Linked DNA regions of Homo sapiens: region 1 is linked to region 2. The links come from fine-mapping of genetic effects on plasma protein levels. A gene starts in region 2. The other region holds a variant in brackets. All regions are shown on one strand. Distances are from middle to middle.

Evidence for each region. A credible set is the group of variants that fine-mapping cannot tell apart. PIP is the posterior inclusion probability: the model's chance that the variant is causal. Protein levels are from antibody-based Olink assays in UK Biobank. Linkage for the fine-mapping came from a reference panel and not from the study's own genotypes, which makes the PIPs less certain.
Region 1: its variant is the best candidate, but not a certain one, in a credible set for the plasma level of the SORD protein (UK Biobank, PIP 0.58).

Annotation. Positions count from the first base shown.
Region 1 is chr15:45,035,767-45,038,266 of GRCh38, reverse strand. The region is part of intron 1 of SORD (sorbitol dehydrogenase); the gene reads right to left. Among named protein-coding and RNA genes, the nearest start is that of SORD, 14 kb to the right of the region's middle. The variant A/G (reference allele first, on the strand shown) is at 1,484.
Region 2 is chr15:45,021,442-45,024,376 of GRCh38, reverse strand. SORD (sorbitol dehydrogenase) reads right to left here and starts at 1,182. Exons shown (of 9, transcript NM_003104.6): 1 at 1,028-1,182. The coding sequence starts at 1,093. RefSeq lists an enhancer at 1-463 and a silencer at 1,233-1,402.

The DNA.
Region 1 (2,500 bases), 14 kb before region 2:
AGCAGCCCGATGGGGGCAAAAGGGCTTAAGGGAGTCTTTTTATCTTTTAATAATTTAGACTGGCTACATCAGAAGGAAGGAAGGAAGGAAGGAAGGAAGGAAGGAAGGAAGGAAGGAAGGAAGGAAGGAAGGAAGGAAGGGAGGATGCGAGGGAAGGAAGTAATCAGTCTAGAAATAGCCACCTCAAGATAGCTGATTGTCACCAAAACCTTCCTCAAAGTTGTTGCTGGTCCCACATCAGACATCAGGGACCGCTGTGTAAAGTGATCCTTCTGTTATACCACGTGGATTTTTTTTTTTTTTTACTTTAAGTTCTGGGATACATGTGCAGAACCTGAGGTTTGTTACATAAGTATACATGTGCCATGCTGGTTTGCTGCACCTATCAACCTGTCACCTAGGTTTGAAGCCCCACATGCATTAGGTATTTGTCCTAATGCCCTCCCTCCCCTTGTCCCCCACCCCCTGACAGGCCCTGGTGTGTGATGGTCCCCTCCCTGTGTCCATGTATTCTCATTGTTCAACTCCCACTTATGAGTGAGAACATGTGGTATTTGGTTTTCTGTTCCTGTGTTAGTTTGCTGAGAAGGATGGCTTCCAGCTTCATCCATGTCCCTGAAAAAGACATGATCTCATTCTTTTTTATGGCTGCATTATACTGCGTGAAATGTTAAACTGCAGGTTAAATTGAAACTAAAGACTAAGGTCTTTATTTCAAACATGGGAGAGCACCCCACCCTCCCTGCTAAAGGCACTAGTAGGCAAATTCACAGACACTGAAAGACAGTTCCACAGCATACAATTCATAGCCTTGCCTCCAGCCTGGCCAGACCTGAACGCCCCATTTCGAGGTGGAGAGGTGGTAAGACTAAAGCTTAGAACAACAGTCAGGCACACCAAATAGGCCCTGGGTCACTAGAGAGAACACTACTGTAAATATTTATTCAAGTTAACAGAGCTGAACAGCTGTGCTCGTACCACACAGCAAAGCTGCAGTGACTCTCCCAGACACGAGAGGGTGCTGTGCCCACAGCCTGTGCTGTGCCTGTAGCAGAACACGCTTGATGGAGAAGTTCAAATAAATTCCTCTCCCTGCACACCAACTTTCTTTTTCCATTCTTTTTCTGGCTGATTCTAATTACCCTTGCAACTCAGGCTTGTCTCCTGCCTCCTGTCTCTGTAGGAGACATGCTACCTGAGCACAAAACCATTTTAACATCAGCCTGTAGGTTTGTAAATATTGCCCTAAGCACACTGTGGAGACTACAATGTTTTAGAAAGTTATTACAGCATGGTTGCTCAAAACCTTGCTTTTCATGTTTCCTTGCCATGATGTTGGCCACAATCCTCTGTTTGCTTAATCTTTTTCTGTCTCAGATACTCTTCCATTTATCCTATTTCTCATCTACCAAAGTTTCTTAGTTTCTCTGAGATCCTGAACTTTCACTTTTATCTCCACAGCTCTTTTTTTTCTCATTCCCAA[A/G]GGTTTTGTCATCTCAATCATATTAAAGGTTTCCTAAACGAATTTCTTTCATTTATTTATTTTTTGTAACTCATCAGCAGTCCCTGATGTCAGATGTCACTGCACTCAGGCTACAGTGCAGTGGCACGATCTCGGCTCACTGCAGCCTCAACCTCCTGAACTCAAGTGATCCTCCCATCCTCCCACCTCAGCCTCCCAAGTAGCTGGGATTACAGGTGCATGCCACGCTGCGTGGCTAATTTTTTTTTATTTTTGGTAGAGACGGAGTTTCACCATGTTGGCCAGGCTGATCTCGAACTCCTGGCCTCAATTGATCTGCCTGCCTCTGCCTCCCAAAGTGCTGGGATTACAGGCGTGAGCCACTGTGCCTGGCCGAATTTCTTATCTTTTAATGAGTGACTACAAGAGGACTAAAAGGAATTGAGTAATTCTTCTTTACCATAGTTGTGTGAGTTTTCCAGAATATTTCACTTCAAGTCAGAAATACATATCTTAATCACATATATACTCCTCTCTTTGTGTCCGGAATTGGTGGGTTCTTGGTCTCACTGACTTCAACAATGAAGCTGCGGACCCTCGCATTGAGTGTTACAGTTCCTAAAGGGGGCGTGTCCGGAGTTTGTTCATTCTGATGTTCGGATGTGTTCGGAGTTTCTTCCTTCTGGTGGGTTCGTGGTCTCGCTGGCTCAGCAGTGAAGCTGCGGACCTTCGCGGTGAGTGTTACAGCTCTTAAGCCAGCGTTTCTGCAGTTGTTTGTTCCTCCCGGTGGGTTCGTGGTCTCCCTGGCTTCAGGAGTGAAGCTGTAGACCTTCGCCGTGAGTGTTACAGTTCTTAAAGGCGACGTGTCCGGAGTTTGTTCCTTCTGATGTTCAGATGTGTTCGGAGTTTCTTCCTTCTGGTGGGTTCGTGGTCTCGCTGGCTCAGGAGTGAAGCTGCAGACCTTCGCGGTGAGTGTTACAGCTCTTAAGGCGGCGCGTCTGGAGTTGTTCGTTCCTCCCGGTGGGCTCGTGGTCTCGC
Region 2 (2,935 bases):
ACTCAGTCTATTTGCATTCTGTGGAGGGGACACCACAGATTCTTAAATAGTCAAGAACTGCTAACCTGGATAAGCTTCTGAATTACTGCAGTTTACATACTGACGCATGTACTTTGAGGGAAAAGAGGTACAGGGGAGCAGCAGAGATGGCTGGCACTCATCCCACATACCCACTGCCATCCCAGGCCCATCTGAGAGGGACTTTGTCAAGGGAGGCTTGGCATGACTAGGCTGCTGACTCAGCCACTTCCTAAACTTTGGTGCCACAAGCCAGGGAGCAAAAGGCAGGGTCTAAGGCAGAGGACACACATACAGAATGCTCCTAAAGGGACAGAGGCACGGGATTGGAAAGAAAAACTGCTGGAAAGTGAACCAGACAGGGTCTTAGGGAGAGAAGGATCCTTACAGACAAGGGAGCTATCAAGATCCACAAGTCTGGCACAGGCAAGGGGAACAGCAGGGGTTCTGGAGATGGAGGCCTAGACTGGAAGGAAAGGAGAAGGAGCTGGCACTTCCTGAGCACGTACTAAGTGCTGAGTACTCTTGTGATCATCATAATCCTGCAAGGGAGGTTTATCAGTCCCAAGCAAGGGAGTTAAATACAAGTTCTGCTGTTTCTAAGTGTCCTCTGGCCCCCCTTTCTCTGCTCTGCACGGTCTGCCCCGATAATTCAGACAGCCTTAGCATTTCCTTTGGAAAGGTCAATGACAAGAGGCTGGACTATGAATCTGCAGCTGGCAAAGGAGAGAGAAAGCTTCATTCAAACAGTTTGCAACCGTCCTGGGCACCGGCCACGTGCCAGCCACGGGGCTAGGTTCCGGGAGGCACACGACTAGATCCCTGCCCTTCGCAACAGCCACTACCTGCTGCCCCCACACCCCGAGGGGAACCAGCTGGGATCTGGGCAGCCAGGGCGCTTAAGGTGCGGGGCCGGCGCCAGGCTGGAAGTGGGAAGCCAGGACTATGGCTGGGCTCAGAGGAGAGTGAGGCAGGATCGGTATGCTTCCCACCCTCCTTCCCAGCTTACCAGGCGCAAGTCCCCCGGTCCGTGCACCACCAGGGAAAGGTTGTTGGGCTTGGCCGCCGCCGCCATGGAGCTCTTTTGGCTCTGGAGTGCGGCCTGGAAGGCGCGGGACGTTTGGTCGCTCTGGTGGCGCTACCCAGCCGAGGGTCCAGGGCACTGGATGGAAGGTGGGGCCTGGGAGAAGCGCCGCACGCAGGGGCGGGACTAGGCTTCCTCCTTTGTGCCAGCCTGGGCGGCGCTAGCGTGGAGGGGCGGGGCTTCCCAGCCTCCTCCAGACCCGGAGGCGGGGCGGGGCTTCGGGAGGGGGCTGGGAGCGAGAAGCCCGGGTGCTGGCTCCATCTGCAGCGCGCTGTTTTTTTTGTTTGTTTGTTTGTTTGTCGCCGAGGCTGGAGTACAGTGGTGCGATCCCGGCTCACTGCAAGCTCTGCCTCCCGGGTTCAAGCCATTCTCCTGCCTCAGCCTCCCGAATAGCTGGGACTACAGGCGCCCACCACCACGTATTTTTGTTTAGTAGAGACGGGGTTTCACCGTGTTAGCCAGGATGGTCTCGATATCCTGACCTCGTGATCCACCCGCCTCCGCCTCCCAAAGTGCTGGGATTACAGGCGTGAGCCACCGCGCCGGCCCTGCAGCGCGCTGTTTTTGCCGCCTCACATGCAAGCACACACGGCTGCCTTGAAAACCGCCTGCAGAGGCAGTAGGCACCAGACCAGCGCTCTCAAACGTTAGCTGCAGAAGAATTGGGGTGGGGAATGTGAGGCGCTGTTGAGAATGCACATTCTCAGGACCAGCACAGAGATTCTGATACAGTAGGTCTAGGTCTGAGGTGCTGCCTGAGGGTCCATATTCCTAGCAACGAGAATGCTGAGGCTGTGGGTGGAGCACGGTGTGCACTTTGCGAGACAGGTGCTACCATGACGCAGCGTCCACGTCGGCCCTTTGTCTCCAGCCCCCAGGAAAGGGCCTGGCACGAGTAGGAGTAAATGAATTCGTGCATCATTACATGGGCCTGGTGCTTAAGTATAAAAAAGACATGAGGCCGGGCGCAGTGGCTCTTGCCTGTAATCCCAGCACTTTGGGAAGCCGAGGCAGGTGGATCACCTGAGGTCAGGAGTTCGAGACCAGCCTGACCAATATGGTGAAAACCCCGTCTCTACTAAAAATACAAAAATTAGCCGGGCATGGTGGCATGCGCCTTAATCTCAGCTACTCGGGAGGCTGAGACAGGAGAATAGCTTGAACCTGGGAAGCAGAGGTTGCAGTGAGCTGAGATCATGCCATTCAACACCAGCCTGGGCAACAAGAGTGAAAATCTGTCTTTAAAAAAAAAAAAGCCATGAAATGGAATTTGTGAACCTCTTTCTCTCAACTGGATCTGCTGCTTCTATTCAAAGCAGAGTTTCTGCCCAAACTCTTCCTTCAAGCCTCTCAGCCCTCTGAGAAACAGTGAGGTTTTACTCTCTGAGGAGAGAGGCGCTTCTAGATAGGCCTAAGTCTATAAGGCCCCTCCCTCCTTTGAGGATAATGCTCAGGATTTCATTCCCTTACAGTCCCCCCTCCCCAATATGTAACCGCCCAATGGATTCACCTTGCCTGCTGCCTAGACAAAACTAATTTATCAAGACAGGGGAACTGCAATAGGGAAAGAGTTCATGCAGAACCAGCTATGCAGGAGACTGGAATTTCATTATTGCTCAAATCCGGCTCCCCAAGCATTCGAGCATACGGGGACTCAGAGTTTTTAAGGATAGTTTGATGGGTGGGGAAAGGCCAGTGAGTCAGGAGTGCTGATTGTTTGGGTCAGAGATGAAATCATAGGGGATCTAAGCTGTCTTCTTGGACTGAGTCAGTTTCTGGGCGAGGGCCACAAGGTCAGATAAGTGAGTTTATCAATCTGGTTGGTGCTACGCC